Linked DNA regions of Homo sapiens: region 1 is linked to region 2. The links come from fine-mapping of genetic effects on gene expression. A gene starts in region 2. The other region holds a variant in brackets. All regions are shown on one strand. Distances are from middle to middle.

Region 1 (9,135 bases), 780 kb before region 2:
ATCTCATACTACAGCCTGAAGAAATGGTGAGGGGAGCTAACATTGACTAAGCACCTCGTGTGTGCTGAGCCCTTTCATATGCTACCTGCCATGGGCTGAACTGTGAGCCCTCCATCTCTGTACGTGGACGCTCTGATGCCCAGTAACTGGGAATGTGACTGTATTTGGAGATGGGGCCTTTAAAGAAGTAATTAAGTAAAATGCAGCCATATGGGTGGGCCCTAATCCAATATGACTGGTGTCCTTATAAGATTAGGACATAGACAACACACAGTCCGAGGAGCAGCCATGTGAGGACACAGTGAGAAAGTGGACTTATGCAACCTGAGGAGAGAGGCCTCAGAAGACATCACACCTGCCAACACTTTGTTTCTTGGGCTCCCAGCCCCCAGAACTATGAGAATATAAATTTCTGTTGCTGAAGCCACCCAGTCTGTGGTATTTTGTTATGGTAGCCCTGGCAAACGAATATATTACGTCATTTTATTTTTATAGTATCTCTATAAAAATAGGCATAATGTCCATGTTCAAGATGATTGACCAGAAGCTTAGAAAGGTAAAGTAACTTTACAAAGGTCACAGAGCCAGGAAACAGGAAAGCCAAAACCTAATTCTAAATTCTCTTTTTTTACACCCTACCTGGCCTCTCAGACCACACTCCATTCTAGCCCAGAAACTTCCCCTGTGCCTTATTCCAAAACCCCTGGCATAGACATTCCCCTGAGAATGTCAACATTCCCAGAGAGCATCACACAGGAGCCTGTGCCGAGAATTTCGAAGACTCTAGACTGGGCAGGCTGCTTGAGTAAGATGAGATGCCATGCTAACTGCAATATTTCTAGAAAGGCAAGGAGGAGACAGACTTCTCAGCCCTTCTTTGAACCACAGGCTTTTAAGTTAAGGAATTTCTCACGTCTTTCTTTTGAGGAGAGTTTACCACATTTTCTGGGTTCATAAGACTCAACTGATAATTGTGATTTTTAGCTGGAAAATCTCCCAGATAGCTCTTTGCATATCTGCTTGCTACCTAATCAACATTAGTATGGCTGCTGAAAATACTCAATTTGCAAGTTACATGATCCAAATGTGCAAAATAATAACGATAATAACTTTCTTTACTCTTCTGTAACTCAACTTCTGTTTTATGCACCAATTCTGCCTATTGGCAGAAACTTGATCACGTCCCCTGAGGTAAAAACACTGGTCACTTCAAATTTAAACATGATCATTTCCATATTCCGCTCCCCCATCTTCCTCACCCTTAGGTGGCATCTACATTCTAGGGGTCTGCATGGCATGATGGCCTGGGACACATGGGACCTCTGCTTGTTGGCAGCCATCCATGCTACCCTCATTCATTCATGGACACCTGTCCCCACCAGCACTTGCTGGAAAATCTAAGACTCTTGGATTTTAGCCCTTGGTGCATCTGGGTCTCTCTGTTTCTGCCTCATCCAGGTTTCAAAGTATACAGCCCATCACTTGGTTAACTTTGAGCCCTTCTTAACCACCCAGGAGATTATTTGGGCCCTTCCTCCTGATGTGCCATCGAGACAGGAGGAGGGAGACTCAGAAGGGCTGTATCTCCCCAGCTACCAAGACCCATACAGCCCTCTCTCTCCCTCTACTCCACCTCCAGAGGCATGGTGGCCACCTCCTACAGCAAAAGGTGGCCTTGGCTCTCAGATTCCTAGCGCCTCACGTCGTTTCATCCCAGAGTGGGAGGCCAGACTCAGAGGCCCCTTCCACAGCCACCGAACTTGGCTCTGGGGTCTCCTGTTCCCATCTAACTAACTCTCCTCTCTCCCCACCCAGCCACCCTGAACTGGTCTCTGAGGGAGCAGGGCTTTTGCTGGCTCAGCATTTCTCTATCTGCTGGTTTCAAACAGATTATTAAAAGGGATTTGACTCTTGCAAATCAAAACCTCAGCTCTTAAGATAACTGTTTCTGCTTCAAGTTTAAGAATATCTAAGCCCTGATTCCTACCTCAGAAATGGACGTAATTATACCTACTTTACAGGAAAATTATAAGAATAAAGCAATCTATTTTGGAATACGAAAGCCAGGAATGTAACTCATTACTGTCAATAGGTGGACACCTCAACTGATACAATCTCAACTGTTGAAATCTCACCTGATACAATCAGGTTACTAAATGAATAGAGGGTAAGTTCAAGGATGGCAAGGGATTGCAAAAAGAGAAAAATGCTCAATTATTTTCTCTAAATATTATCCCCACTCTATTAGATTTCTCTGTCACTTGTGGAGTGGGAGATTATTTTCAGCCGTCTTCTCCCTGCTAAACCAGATACCTGCTTAGAGTGCAACACCTTTGTTTAACAGTTGCACACTTTGCCCAGAGACCCACAGGTCTCCCTTGATTCATTCAGGTTTCTGCTCAAATGTCCCTGTTTCAGTGAGGCCATCCCTGATCCCCTCTCCCAAAAAGCAATGGACTTTGACTGCTTTGCTCAATGTCAAATATTCAGTGACTGGAACACTACCCTGCATGCAACAGACACTCTATAAGAATTAATTAAAGGAAGAAAGTAGGAAGAAAAGGAGGCAGAGAAAAGCCAGGCTGGCTATCACCCTGACTCCCTGGCATCTCAAACCTCACAATGCACTAGCTATGGGACCCACAGAGTCTTGAAAGGGTGCTTCCCAAAGTTCCTGTGTCCTTCTTCTCCCTTTCTCCTACTCCTGCTGCAAACAGCACAGTTCTCAAAACAGCAGCCATGGCCCTTCCCTAAATGGCTTTCTCAGAGCGTTTCACCCTACAGAGAGAGCCTGGTGCTCTCTACACTTCTCAACCCAGAGGTCACTGGGCAGGATTACCCCAAACCTGTCTCTCTTCTGCCTCCCCAGAATAAAGCAAACAGAAACATGTGGAGCCAGGAACTGGGGTCATCGAGGGATGCAACATTTTACTTTCTTGTGGCAGGCTGCTCCCCACCTTGAAGTCTGCATGCTGGCCCAGAGCCAGAGGAAGTAAAGCCCCAGCACTCGACCATGCAGGGACAGCCAACTGCCCTGCCAAGGGGCCAGCTCGTCCTGGGGCTCCCTTGCACACCAGGCTCCAGCTACTGCCCCACATCCTTTCATCTTCCATTCTCACTGGGCTTTTGTACACATGGCCTCATCTCCCTAGAATGTCCTTGCCAACCTCATTTGCCTGGCCAACTTTTCCTCCCTTCCAGGACTCAACCCAAATATCAAACTTCCCGGACATCCACCTCCTCCTTAGTCTGAACTGGTCCTCCATCCTCTCGTAACCCCTGTATTCTGCTATATCCTTAGTTATCACTGTGCACTGTAACTGTAACTTGCCTCCCCCACTTGCAAATGAGGCTATTGAAAAATAAAAGCTATGTCTTATTTCTTGTGTATCTCCTGTCCCTAACCCCAAGTCTGACACACAAAGACATAGTGCAAATAAATGAAAGTCTGGTCATTCATTTATTCATTCCACAAATATTGGACCAGGCACTGTACTTGGTGCCGAGGGTACAAGAGTAAAAAGGCCTGAGAGTATGAATCTGTCACCTCAAGGAGTCTGTATCCTAATAGGGGTGAGACAGACAATACCAAGTAGATAAATAATTGTAGATAATTATAATTACAGATTTATTATTATTATAGATTATTGAGTCATTATAGATCATGATCTATTAGTAGTAGAGAAATAATTGTAGATTAATATTTGAGAGTGCTCACTCTGTGCCAGAATATCAGG[TCCACAC/T]CCACACCCACACCCACACACACACATGTACACAAAGTACAAGTGGTTACACACCCATTTATTAGATTATATTGGACAAAGAAGACAAGCTTTGGCTGATTCTCAACCTTGCCCAGGGCACAGTGTGTTAGACTCTCAGTTGAAGAAAATAAACAGGGTTCTTTCATCGACATCAACAGAAGGCTCTTACTTCAGGAAGGGGATCAGGGGAGGCATGGAAGAATGAACGAGTGAGTGAATGAGATTACAAACACAACATACCTGGGTCCAGAATGCAGATGGTTGCTAGAAGCCCCCTTATCTCGGGAGAGTTTCTGACACCTCAGGATCCATTTGGCAGTTGGGATTTAAGATTAGCTCTATACGCAGATGACAGGGCAGATTCATTTCCCCAAAGCTCCCCTTTCCAATGCTTATCTTCGGGGTCAGTGAGAGAGAGAGGACTGGGATTCTGGAAACACAGTCAGAATAAAATGCAGCCATTCCTGAGAGCTCACTGTGTTGAAGCCCTGAGGCTGGCCTTGGGGACACCATTAAAAGACCTATGGAGCTCTCATTCAACCCCACCCCAGTCCTACCTGGGGGAGGCACAGGTGTAAACATCTAATGAGGCAATAGGAGAACGTCACAGGGGTGTGTGCAATGGCAGCAGATCACAGAAGACAGGCAGGTTCTTTCTGCTTGGATGGAGAGGGCAGTGAGCAGAGGGAGACAGGGAAAGCTTCTGAAATTTATTCTGAGCTGGGCCTTGACTGGAAGATGAACAGAAAAGAAAGTGAACAAGAATATTTCAAGTGGAGAAGAGAGCATGAAGAAAAGCAAGCAAGGATGGAAGCACAAGGGGTGATGAGTGATGCTGAGTGGTGGTGGAGAAAGGTAGAAGGAGAGGATGGGTCTCAAGGTTTGCTAAGGCCACATACCCTCTGATTCTAAAATGCAGCTTGCAAAGGGTCAGGAAACTCCGACTCAAATTCAGAGACAGCATCTGCAAGAAATGTCTAGTAAAATTCTCTGCCCTGGAAGGTGGGGCAGGGACAACAGGGCAGCCCCTACTCCCAGGGCTGTCCCAGTCTTAAAGAATACAGCTATCTGGGGTGAGGGGAATACTGGGAATTCAAAGAAAGGAAATATGGAAATGGAGTTGGTTTCTGCCTTATTCAGACCAACAAGAAAGGAGAGTCACCCCAAGTTCAGGCCTCAGGTGCCATGACACCCATCCACTGATGCACCTTCTCACAGACAGCACTGTTTGGGGGTGGGAGTACCGGGCAAATGAGAGCTCCCAGGTGAGGACCCTTCAGGAGCTCTCCCAGGTGCCGTCCTGCCCCCTGGAGCTTATGAAATGTGCCACACCTCCTGCAACAGGTGCAGGAAACCGCCAAACAGAGGGTTTAGAAGCAACAGCACTTCCTGGGCCTCCTAAGAACCCAGTCCGCACCCAACAGGGTGGCATCTGTGCTCTCCAGGGGAGGGAGAAATTGCCTGCAATCATCCTTCCAGGTGTTCTGCCACAAAGACCTCCTTGTGAGACATCCAAAAGGCCAAATCTATAACCTACCTTAAAGGGAAATCATGATAAATACAGGCAATACAGCAAATACAAGACGATTTCCTAATAATAAAAAATAATACCGAAAATGCACTGAGTGCTTTCTCTGTGCCAGAGTGTAAGTGCACACATGCATATGCTCGGACACCAAGTATAAATGCTGATATGCCAGCTTGTTAGGTTATACTGGACAAAGCTTTGACTGTTTCTCAATCTTGCCCAAGATACGTTCCCACTGGGAATTCTGACTTCTGTATCTTTGTGTGAGGGACATCTGGGGAAAGCCTCCCTTCCTGCAGGATTAAGATTCCTCACCTGTAAGATATATTAACTGTTTTCTTAAAAAGTCTCAAGTCTGCCAAATGGAGGACACACAAAGTTTCTCAGAGTAAGTGCTCAGGAGAAGGTGTGGGGGAGTGTCTATGCAACAGTGTACACCTGCTTCCCAGTAGCTTATTAGCTCACCCACACCCAGGTCACAGGGAAGGTAGGGGACAGGTGCTCATGGGGCTCCCTGCCCTGCTTTGCCAGTGCCTTGGGCTCCTTGATCTGCTTCCTCAGGGAATTTCCCATGTCATAAATCTGCACCCTTCCCTCTCCCCACCACCCCATCCATCCTCTGAGCTGAGCTCTCCATATCCTTGCAGTCTAGCTTCGGGGTCTCTGAGCCCCCCAGGTGTGTTCTGAACTGCATTCTCTGATCAGAACTCAGCTCTCTGAGCACCTGGGCTCGACTCATTGCCTTTGGCTCCTCCTGCATATCCCAGCACCACTTTGGAATGGGCTGGGTGGGACAGAGAGCAAGGGAAAGAGGAAATAAAAAACAGAGAAAGAAGAAAAGAGAGACAAATAATGAAAGCACAAAAGAGCAGCAAAGAGAAGGGGAGAGAAGAGGAAGAGGAAAAACGCTCAGGCAGTCAAAAGATGAAGAGTCAGGGACAGAAAGTAAGGCCACAGGAGAGTCAGCTGGGAGACCCAGCAGGGTGTTAGGGAGAGGACTAATTGTCAGAGGCAACTGCAAAAATCTGCACTTGTCCTAGGCTAGTGGTCATCAAACTTGAGTGTAAATAAAAATCACATGCTCGTGAAAATACAGATTTCTAGTCCATGTTCCAGGGTTCTGATTCTTTAGGCATGTGCGGGGTCCTATAAATCTGTACTTTTTAAAAATAACCAGCCCAGGAGCTTCTGGGGGAGGTTTTGGGAAATACTGATGTCCATTCTCAGGAGGGCACTTTGTGGCACACGAAACTCTGAGGAAATTCTCCTCAGAATTTGATATCTCCTCAGAATTTGATATTTTAAATGCTCGAGTTTGGAACTCAACTGTCTTGGACTATGCAAGCAACAGGTGGGCTCCAGGAGTGGCCCGATTCTGCTCTCCAGGTAACTGCCTGAATCTGGGAGGATGGCAGGTGCTCTCTGATGGACAAGTCTCTCCTCTGGGATGTAGACAGTTAGAATAGAGGGTCTCCAAGGACCTTTTCATCTAGAAGAAACCCACCAGTCTCCTGAAATGTGATGCCCATCTTGATCTAACTAGATAGACACTTATATTCTGAGGTCAAAACTTGACCAAATGTTCATTCTCCAGCCATAGGTGTTAGACAATACAAGTGCCTTTTTAAAAAAAGAAATATTAAGGCTAGGCATACTGGCTCATGTAATCCCAGCATGTTGGGAGGCCAAGACAAGAGGATCACTTGAAGTCAGGAGTTCCAGACTAACTTGGGCAACATAGTGAGACACCATCTCTTAAAAAATAAATAAATAAATAAATAAATAAATAAATAAATACATAAATACATAAAAATTAAATTAGCCAGGCATTCTGACACATACCTGAAGTCCCAGCTACTCAGGAGGCTGAAGCAGAAGGATCTCTTGAGCCCAGGAGTTTGAGGCTTCAGTGAGCTATGTTTGTGCCACTGCACTCCAGTCTGGGTGACAGAGTGAAATCTTGCCTCTAAAAAAAATTAATAAATACATAAAAAAAAAGTAAGAACTGATTTTGTTTTTATGAACTCCTTTAAATTGAAGTTAATGCCAACAGGCTTAATTATATGTATAGTATTTTACAATTTTCCTCAAGTATTTCTAATTCCTTACAAGGATGACTATTTTGTATTTTAAAGTATTTTTTTAAGAGAAGATGACCAAGTGTGTGTTATAGCTTGGTTATCTTATGGGCTGGTGAGTGTAGTGTGTTTGATATAAATAAGTTAACTCTTAGAATGCCAAGGTTTTTTTAAAACTTTTATTTTAAAATAAAAAGAGTACAAATGCTGGTGTGCTACATAGGGAAACTTGTGTCATAGGGGTTTGTTGTGCAGCTTTTTCATCACCCAGGTATTAAGTCTAGTACCCTTTAGGTATTTTTCTTGATCCTCTCCCTCCTCCTACCCTTCACCCTCCAAAAGTCCCCAGTGTCTTTCTTCCCCCTTATGTGTCCATGTGTTCTCACCATTTGGCTCCCACTTATAAGTGAGAACATGCAGTATTTGGTTTTCTGTTCCTATGTCAGTTTGCTAAGGATAATGGCCTCCAGCTCCATCCATGTTCCTGCAAAGGACATGATCTCATTCCTTTTCATGAATGCCAAGGTTTTCATTCCATCATCTTCTGACAGATACCTTCTAAATTATGATGCTAACATTTCTGCCTTGGGAAAGGGGACTTACTAGATTAACTCCTCTGCCTTATTTGTAAAGCCCAACATTAACCCTATAATAGCTCATTTCTCTTCTGCAGCATCACTTCCAGCTGCCCCATGAATAAATCTTCCACTTCATTTATTCTTCCCTCTGTACCTTTGCCATTGGACCTTCAATCTTCTGGAATGCCCTCCTTGATGTTCAGCCCACCTAAAACTCCCTGTCCATCAAAAGTCCCAAGAGCCAGTAACATCTCTCTAATCTCTAGGTCCCATACACAGCCCTTAGTAAGCATTCAGCAAATATTTGCTGAGTGAATGAATAATTCTCTGTTCCCCACACACACACAGGTTGGATTTTCCTTCTTATAATTAGAAACCCCTTTTACTAATATTTTATCTCTCATACTACATTTTTTTCAATGAATTATTATACCCATGTCACCTCGTAACTTGAAAAAAAACAAAAGGAAACAAAATGGCCAGGCATGGTAGCTCACACCTGTAATCCAAGCATTTTAGGAGGCCTAGGCAGGCAGATCACTTGAGATCAGGAGTTCAAGACCAGCCTGGCCAACATGGCGAAACCCCATCTCTACTAAAAAATACCAAAAAAAAAAAAAAAAAAATTAGCCAGGTGTGGTGGTGTGCACCTGTAATACCAGCTATTCAGGAGGCTGAGGCAAGAGAATTGCTTGAACCCAGGAGGCGGAGGTTGCAGTGAGCCAAGACCATGCCACTGCACTCCAGCCTGGGCCACAGACTGAGACTCTGTCTCAAAAATAAATAAATAAATATTATTGTTGCTAGTGAATCCTGGGATACTTGAAGGGATAACCTTTGCCTGCAGATCAATCCTAAAATCCATGAGAGGTCCTTGGCCTGATTTCCAAGGTCACCTATAATCTCCATCTACTCTGCATGCCCAATCCTTTCTCCCAGTAGTTCCCAACACATTTGGTCTGCCACTTCTACACTGACTCTTCAACCCTTCATGTGTCACCCTTAGTGCTCCCTCTTTGCTTTGCTCACACCAGTCACCCATATCCAAAGTACCCTTTTACCTCCCTCACACCTCTTTAAATCCCACTCAGCAAAAAAGGTTGATGATGCATCCCATCATTTCCATAAGGTTCACCCTCACTGCTATAATTCACATTGAGCTCCCCCTTCTCCAAATTCTTACAGCA
Region 2 (9,135 bases):
GACAATTTAGGAATGCAGAGGTGAGGAGTAGGGAGGGGAATGGGATGAGAGAGAGTGGAGATTAATGGTGGGCAGAGCGAGGTTTAGAACTTAGTGGTTTCTTCAGGTTCTGAACTGAAATTTGTATACTGTAAAGGCACAAACACCATTTTTAACAAAAGTGAGCAGGACTTCCTATCTGGTTCAGAAAATAGGTGAATAAATAGTACGAATTATTAAAAATAATAATTTCCACTTATACATAGGAAACTTGATAGGAACCATGATAAATGCTTAACTCTTAATCTTCAAGGAACTCTGCTAGGGATATAATATTATAAATCTTGTTTTGCAGATGGAGAAATTGAATTTTAACCCAAGTTATCATAACCCTTAAATGATTAAATGATACTGTTACATGAGAAAGCTGCGTATCTGTTTCCTGGATTTGTAGCCATAATTTGTGTCTCAAGTCCCTTTTGCTGCCAGCTATCTTGGGTAGGTGTGTTCCCTTTGGGCTGTTTGATACCCCCACATTTATCTTTTTTTTTTCTCTTTTTTTGTTGAGAGAGTCTTTCCCTGTTGCCTAGGCTGGAGGGCAATGGCGCGATCTCGGCTCACTGCAACCTCCGCCTCCTGGGTTCAAGTGCTTCTCACGATTCTCTTGTCCCAGCCTCTCTAATAGCTCGGATTACTGGCATGCACCACCACGCCCACCTAATTTTGTATTTTTAGTAGACAAGGGGTTTCTCCATGTTGGTCAGGGTGGTCTCAAACTCCTGACCTCAGGTGATCTGCCTGCCTTGGCCTCCCAAAGTGCTGGGATTACAGGTGTGAGCCACCATGCCTGGCCCCAAATTTATCTTTAATGCCCCAAATTATCTAGTTCCCATGACTGGGCTTCTGCTTTGATCCTTTCTGCACTTGCTGGACCCTCTCCCTGGGAAATGAGATTGTGTCCTGAGCCCCTAGTTAGAGGCTATGTCTCTGCTGTTCCTGAATGGGCCTCCTGGATGAGACCTCATTAAAAGTCTAATTCTCTTGGAGAATTGAGAGATACCTATTTGTCTCAAAATCATTGAAACCAATTAATGTATTATGAGCCTCTATCCAGTGATTTGTACCTCAATTCCCCAATCCAGCTGTCAAGGCCAATTTGTTCTACCTTACCTAGTAGGTAAGTCTGGAATTGTAGCTGTGGCATTTTCAGTAATGGTACTCTAGGTTAGCAGTCCCCAACCTTTTTGGCACCAGGGACCAGTTTTGTGGAAGACAATTTTTCCATGAAGGGCTGGGCAGGGGAGTGGTTTCAGGATGAAACTGTTCCACCTCAGATCATCAGGCATTAGATTCTCACAAGGAGTGCGCAAGCTAGATCCCTCACACATGCAGTTCACAATAGGGTGTGCACTCCCATGAGAATCTAACACCGCTGCTGATCTGACAGGAGACAGAGCTCAGGCAGTAATACTCATTTGCCTACCGCTCACCTCCTGCCGTGCAGCTCAGTTCCTAACAGGCCACGGACCAGTACTGGTCCACGGCGCAGGCATCAGGGACCCCTGTTGCTAGGTATAAGCATCTGGCTGCTGCATGTCTTCTGTGTAGCTACATCTGTATGTGTATCTGATGAGATATAAATTATTTGATTATAAATTACTTTCTTCATATTAGAGTTGTGAATGAGTATCACATATAATTATACATAAACTAGGAATATGCTTTTTAATAATGTATATAAGTAAGTTTCCTTAACTATGACTTTCATCTTAGCGTAGTAAGAGGGTGCTAAGAAATATTTGTGATGAAAATAGGCATTGGTAGAGTTGAGACCACTGGGTGATGAAAGAGTGTAAAGATTTTAAAGCCTTCAGATGCTGGTTCAAGGTGAGAAATGTGATTGGGAGCAAATCAATTAACTTCTTGAAGTCTTATAGGGCAGTTATGAATACTTAATGTTAACATATGTAAAGCTCTTCTGCCCTGTATACAGTAAATGCTAGTTAGCTATTATGATCACTACTAAAATGGGGATGACATAAACCTCATAAGGTTTTAAGTATTATGCAAGATACTATACAAAGTCCAGTAAATATCACATTCAATTGAATCCATGATGTCCGATTATTTTAGCTACTTCCAAGAGAGAAAAAAATGCTGTCAGTTTTACTGTTCTTATAGAGAGCAAGGCAGATCCCAATTCCCAATGTGGTAACGTGAAAATTTTTGCATTTGAATCAACAAAACACTTTCTCCTTTCTTTCCTACTATTTAACAACTGGTAAGTCTATACTCCCCCAAATCTGGAATTCTCCTTTCTTATTCTTTTTCCTCCTACCAAGACCGCAGGATCTTTTACTTGGCTATAAGGGGTAAACCTCAAGTAGTACAAGTTCTCTGTATTACTTTTATACTCTGTCACAGATTCCCTTTGTTTCCTCATCTCCATGTGAATTTAGTTAAATTCTCAGCATTCTGATCCTTACTATACAAGGTAAATGAATATAAAAACAAAACGAAACAAAAACCTCTTCCTATTTACATAAGGCCCCAACCTAATATTTAGTGATATATATTAATGTGAACAAGGAACTAACGAAGACTGGGAAGAAATTCACAGACTTGAGAGAAGAAATGGCAGGATTTCCTGGGAACAATTTCATGTAACGTCAAAGGTGGTAAAAGGTCAAATAGAATGAAGATGGAGAATACCGGATTTTCTTACAAAATGATTTCCCAGGAGATCTCATCAAATGCACGAGGATACCTTCTCAGTTTCACCTAGTGAGTAAAAGACTGGTAACATAGCTCACTTACAATTTGGATAAACAAAACTAAACAAACAACATCAAAATTTCAGAAAAAATAATAGCAAAACAGAAATCAAACACTCAAATTTTTGGTCCTTCTGTTTATTTCATTTTGGATACTCAGTGAATGTTAATTAACCAGGAAACTTAAAAGTTATTTCAATTATGAACCTCTTCAATCCTTCATCAATTATTTTGAGTATTCTGGTCTTAAAAACATCTCTTTCTTCTACAAACTTCTGAAAGAGATGAACACCTCCACCTACACCAAAATAATGTGCTTTGCTGGCCAAAAGTACACGTCCATTTTTACTTAACAGTCTAAGGAAAGTCTGGTGCAAATTACTATAATAATCTGGGTTGTAAATGGTTTCTGAGGTGAGAATGAGATCATATTTTACAAAAAGTTTTTCACTACTTAGTACAAGCTTACAAAACTCAGACCACTCACCAGAAAAAAATCGGCATTTATATAGTTGTGTTACTTTTGGTTTCCTGCATCTTTTCACATCTGGCTCATTTACATCATTTTCTTCATCTTCCAAAGTGGAGTTAGCTACTACATTAGGTAAGGTTACTTCATCAATCACCATACTGTTATAATCTTGAAAGTGAATTTCTTTGGACCCTCCCTTGAATGCAGTTATACCTAGTAAACCTGATCCACAACCAAGATCCAAGACTTTTTTCCCAGCAAATTTCACTTTGGCCTTTGTGAAATAAGCCAGGAGGTCAAAGGTACATTCCCAGATTTTTAAGCCTCCCTCATAAACACCTGTAATCAGATCAGAGTGAGAAGAAAAGCTTTTTGAAACTATGTTTTCTCCAGGGAAGTTCTCTTTCAACAAGATGGTTTTCACTACTGATAACTTAACATGCTGGAAACCTGGTAATGTTTCTATGACTTTATTTTCTAACATCTTCTTTAAATCTTTAGGCATAGCATGCTCTTTGGCAGCTCTCAAGGAGGGCTGTTTTCCATGTGGCTCCAAGTTCCTTGAACTGCTGGCTGCACTGAGTGGACTGTCTGTGTCTTGAGAGGGAGCTGCATTTTCCATTGACTTATGTTCCCACAAGTGATCCTGAGGCAAGTCAAATTGTTCTGCAGAACATTTTCTGTCCCTCTCTTCTCCTTTTTGACTTTCTGAGACTGACAGCTCTTTTGAGGAATCCAGGGTCAAAGCTCCATCTCTAATGGGTGTTAATTCATTTTCCAGATGGTCTTCTATAGTGAAATTAAACTGAAAGGTCATCCTCTTATTAAATGCACACAATCTTTAAATTCAGATTCTTCAACTTCTGGATAGAATTTGATGATACACACAAATCTGCCTCAATTATTCAATTAGTTTTGTTGGGCCCAATTTCTCTTTAGCAGCTTATACATGGTAACAAATATTTAGAGATATTTCCAAATGACTTTTTAGACGTCTTTGGTCCTCTTTCCAAGCAGCTCTGGAAAGAAAAAAAAAAAAAAAAGAAAGAAAATGATGATTAAAGCAAAATGGCACATTTCACTAAAGTGTAATATTAAACAGCCACCCCCACCCCTCCCTGTCCCACCATACAGCTGCTTTTTCTTAAAAAGTTGTGGGGAAGAGAGAGAGATAAGAGATTTGGACACTCATACACACCTTAAGGGTTCCAAAGTGGGAGAAGAAAATCAACTATAAAAACAAACAGAAGAACAACAGCAACCACCACCACTACCACCTGGACAAACATAAAGTCCAAGATATTCAGACAGGACAGCCTAGCTACTTGCTGTCTTTCAGCTGTCTTGATTTGTGTCCAACCATATTCACCCCCTAAGCTTCCAGAATAACTTCACTTCTGTCTTTTACAGAAGAGGTGCAGTATTTTATTTTGGTAAGTCAGCGTCCCTTTAAAAACATGCATAGGTATGGCCTGGTGTGTGTAAATTCATCCAAGACTTCACTCCAAACATTTAGTCGAGAACAGCAGCCCTAAGTGTATAGAAGTGGGGGTAATTTGGCAATAATTAGTAAAGACTAATTCGGTGGCAGAGCAAACGCAAACTAGGGCACTGCAGTAGTTTGGAGAGACCTGTAGAAATAAGAAGCAACTTTATTGAGAATCTTCTATCTACTGCGCTAGACACTATACCATCTGCCTCAATTTTCACAGTTCTGGCAAGTGGGATCTTTGTTCCCTTTATACAAGATTTACAATTTGGGGGAGAGGCGGGTCACCCAGTCCCGCGGCTAGGAACGCGCCTCTTTCCTCTCCCATCACGCTGCAAGGCTTGGAGTCACTTCCGGCTGCAGGTCCCGGAACAAATCCGACCCCAGAAGTGGGGACTTCTGGCCCTCACCTCCCCATTTGAATGTAATGTTTACAGTGATCCAGACCTGGGGATGCTTGCTTCCCGACGTGTCCTGGGATCGCGCTTCTGAAAAAGCTCACCTCACAACGCCTCCTCCGGACCTAAATCGCGCACCAGTGAGTCGAGTCCTCCAGGGGCTAGAGAAGCCCGACTTTCTTTCCGGCCTTGAGGGACCCGGGCTCACCAAGAAACCAGCCGCCCTCCTCTCTATGGTTTTGGAGCCGGCGGAGAGCGCGCAAGGGTTGGCGGGACTGCGAGTTTCCGGTCTGGGCTTTGGCGGGTCTGGTTTGAAGCTCTCCTGTTTGACGAAAGTATGTCTCAGGAAGGTGCGGTCCCAGCTAGCGCGGTTCCCCTGGAAGAATTAAGTAGCTGGCCAGAGGAGCTATGCCGCCGGGAACTGCCGTCCGTCCTGCCCCGACTCCTCATATCCTTCCTTGGTTGTCACTTCTACCTAGAGAAGGGTGTGGGCGGGTCGCGAACCTTTCTCTTCTGTCCCTTCAGACCCACCGCCAGGCTGGGTTATATTACCGCGGCCTGAACCCCCTCTTTTCTTTGTCAGTGAGTGGGATGAAAAGTGAGGGACTGGAGGGGAAGCGACAACCGTGGTAGATTTAAGTAAGGCTTTGGCCCTGGAAAGCCTCGCGGACGTGTTCTGACCCAAGGTTTTAGCAGTGGATGTGGCGTTTTCTTCCATTCCTTCTTTCAGTTTTTCTGTACTCGTTGCTTGCAATTAAGTGTAAATACTTTTGCTAGTGGATAATGGGGGAGGCAAGGACTGAGACCTGCGGTATGACGATAGCTCTGGCTCTTAATAGTTTGAGGTAAAGCGAGATACTCTGAGCTTTTGTCTCCCGTAAAAAGGGTGGTGAATATGAATAAGGGCTTTCTTAGCGTTATAAGAATTAAAGGGCATAGTTCTGTGGTGTGAAATCTTTAAAAGATGTTCAGTAAATAAAAATGATTTTCCTCCTTCCCCTCTCAGACCTCTTTTTCTTCTTTCTTTCTTTTTTTTTGACAAGTTCTCACTCCTCTCACCCAGGCTGGAGTCTTTCTGAAAGAGTTCTTCCGCTTGTTGTTGGCTTTCAACTGTTGGATTTGAGGCGCTTAGCGCCTTCTTCGTCCGGGTGCAGCACATTCTTGATTGGTCTCATGCCTTTGTGGTTGTAAATGTGCCTGGAATCCTAGCCTTTCATGGTAAACCATATGTATATGTATCTTTTTCACAACATTTGAGCCCAGCTTTATACAATTACACTCAAAAGAAAAAAAGTAACCTTCACTTGAGAGAATCTCAATACTGCACAAATATTGTGCAGCTAAAGCCCTATGTAATCACATAGAAGTCATTCACCTAGGCATTAGCAAAATCTCAGAAGGTGCCAAAGCCCCCTTTTTTAGTTTTTGTGTAGGTACAGAACTGCCGTCTTCAAGGAGTTTCAACTTGAAAACAAATAGCCACCCTCAAAACATTCAAAAACACTTAAACTGCGTGCATAATGTGTGTGAGACATGGTGTTAGGCTTTGGGAGAACAGAGACACGGAACGTGATTCCTCTTCTTCCCCACAAGCTTATAGAGAGACTTCATTAAGTTGAAAGTCAACATTCCCACCTAGCTTTGCACTTCAAACGACATATTCAAAAAAGCCCAAACTTCCTCTAGTTTTCTTCATCTGAGTAAATGGTTTCACAAACTGAAACCTTGAATCCTCTCTGTCTCACACACCCGATCAGTAAGTTCTATTGTTTCTGATTCCAAACTATGTCTTGAATCAATCCGTTTATCTCCATCCTCATTGCTACCACTCTGATTCCAAACCCTTATCACCTCTCACTTGGAGTATTAATAGTTTCCTTGTTTCTACTCATAATTCATTATTCCAAAAAAGTTAAGAGGGGAAAAACATAGATCTCGTCATTTCCCTTTTTAAACCACTTTACCTTCAAGGTTCCAGGTGATCTAAGCCTTGCCCTTCTCTCATACCTAGTTAATTAACTACACTCTGTTCATGAATACATTAGGCTCACCTACCTCAAGATCTTTTTGCTCAGCCTGATTTGTTCTCTCAGCCTTTTGCATATTTCATGTTTATGTCTTGGCCCAAATGTCACTTCCTTAGAGGGGCTTTTTCAGAGCCTTCAATCTTAGGCAGTTCCCCCAAACGCAGTCTTACACTTGTATCACATTGGCCTGTTCAGTTTTCTAAAAAGCACATTACCATTAAAAGAAATGCTCTTGTTTGCTTTGTATATTTTCCACTTCTACACATTATGTTGCAAAGTTCATAAAGGCAGGATGTTGATTTTCTTCACAGCGTTACCCTCAGCACCTAGAACAGTGCCTGACACATAGTAAGCATTCATTAAAGGGCTAAAAATATTTCATGTTTTAAAAATACTTGGGAGTCTAATTAGACAATACTTTTTTTCAGCTTAATGGTAGTATTTTAGCTTCACTATTTTAACAAATGAAAAATTTGCAATAAATCTACAATGCCATTACCCCCCAAAATCTTTTTCATGTTTTGCATTTTACGTATTATTTTCCAGGCCTTACCTGCATGTCTGCATAATCATAACTGACTAATTTTGGAACAGCTGGTAATTATTTGAGCTTTACTGAAATTTTTTCATGAGGCCAATTCTACCCTACTGAACTCAAATTTGAGTTAATGATGACCTCATTTTGATTGCTGCTGTAAAAAATAAGATTTCGGAAGAGGAATGAATTCTTGTATTACTGTGGTAGGACTATGGGTTTTTTTTTGTTTGTTTGTTTGTTTTGAGACGGAGTCTCACCCTGTCACCCAGGCTGGAGTGCAGTGGTGCGATCTCAGCTCACAGCAGCCAGGTTCAAGTGATTCTCCTTCCTCAGCCTCCCGAGTAGCTGAGATTACAGGCACGTGCCACCATGCCCGGCTAATTTTTTGTATCTTTAGTAGAGATGGTTTCACCATGTTGGCCAGGCTGGTCTCGAACTCCTGACCTCGTGATCCGCCTGCCTCAGCCTCCCAAAGTGCTGGGACTACAGGCGTGAGCCACCGTGCCCGGCCGGGTTATTCATTTTTCTTATTAACATTCTTTGATGATTCTTATGGTGTTGTTACAGTAAAACATTTCTAACAATTATTCTAACAATTATTCTTGATGGTGTATATGAAGAATTTATTGTCGTGTATTTGTAAGCTGCTATGTGCAGAAGAATTTCAGTCAAATAAAGTTGGTAAGATAGGTATGTAAGTAATATGAAAAAAGATAGAAGGTGATGAGTGACTTAGGTATAAATTAAGTACAATAGAAATGTTGAGGAAAGAAAAATTTCTTGTAATAGAAATCGGAAGTACAAACTGGGCATGGTGGTGTGCATCTCTAATCCCAGCTCCTTGAGAGGCTGGTATGGGAGGATCACTTTAGCCCAGGAGCTTGAGGCTGCAGTGAGGTGTGATCATGTCACCGCACTCCATCCTGGGTGACAGCAAGACCGTCTCTCTTTTTTTTTTTTTTTGAGACGGAGTCTCGCCTATGCTGGAGTGCAATGGCGCGATCTTGGCTCACTGCAACCTCTGCCTCCCAGTTTCAAGTGATTCTCCTGCCTCAGCCTCCTGAGCAGCTGGGATTACAGGTGTGCGCCACCATGCCCAGCTAATTATTTTGTATTTTAAGTAGAGACGGGTTCTCACCATACTGGCCAGGCTGGTCTTCAACTCCTGACCTCTTGTTCGCCCATCTAGGTCTCCCAAAGTGCTGGGATTACAGGTGTGAGCCACCCCACTTGGCCCCGAGCGAGACCCTCTCTCTAAAAAAAAATAAATAAATAAATCATAAACCTGTGGATTATTGTAGCATTGTTTCTCATCTGTCAAAAATATTTCATGACTATGCATAGTTTGAAAAGGCAAGTTTGTCCCTGGGCAATTTTCAAAATATTTCTTTAATGTGTTTTCACAATACTGTTTACCTAATAAATCTTAAGTTTTTAAAAGCAAAATTAAGCCAGTAA

Direction of the effects. Positions count from the first base shown, and alleles are read on the strand shown. Sizes are in standard deviations (SD) of each study's normalised expression.
For the expression in neutrophils of the gene that starts at base 5,387 in region 2, allele T in region 1 goes with a higher level than allele TCCACAC (moderate effect, 0.66 SD a copy in Naranbhai 2015).

Evidence for each region.
Region 1: its variant is fine-mapped to the expression of FIRRM in neutrophils (Naranbhai 2015, PIP 0.94).

The regions. Positions count from the first base shown.
Region 1 is chr1:169,013,809-169,022,943 of GRCh38, forward strand. All of the region lies in intron 3 of LINC00970 (long intergenic non-protein coding RNA 970), which reads right to left. Among named protein-coding and RNA genes, the nearest start is that of LINC00970, 69 kb to the right of the region's middle. The variant TCCACAC/T (reference allele first, on the strand shown) is at 3,738.
Region 2 is chr1:169,789,654-169,798,788 of GRCh38, forward strand. It overlaps FIRRM (FIGNL1 interacting regulator of recombination and mitosis), which reads left to right and starts at 5,387. Exons shown (of 25, transcript NM_001320047.2): 1 at 5,387-5,462; 2 at 6,176-6,330. METTL18 (methyltransferase 18, RPL3 N3(tau)-histidine) reads right to left here and starts at 5,254. Exons shown (of 2, transcript NM_033418.4): 1 at 5,162-5,254; 2 at 2,876-4,244. The coding sequence starts at 4,042. The coding sequence ends at 2,924. RefSeq lists an enhancer at 4,987-5,306.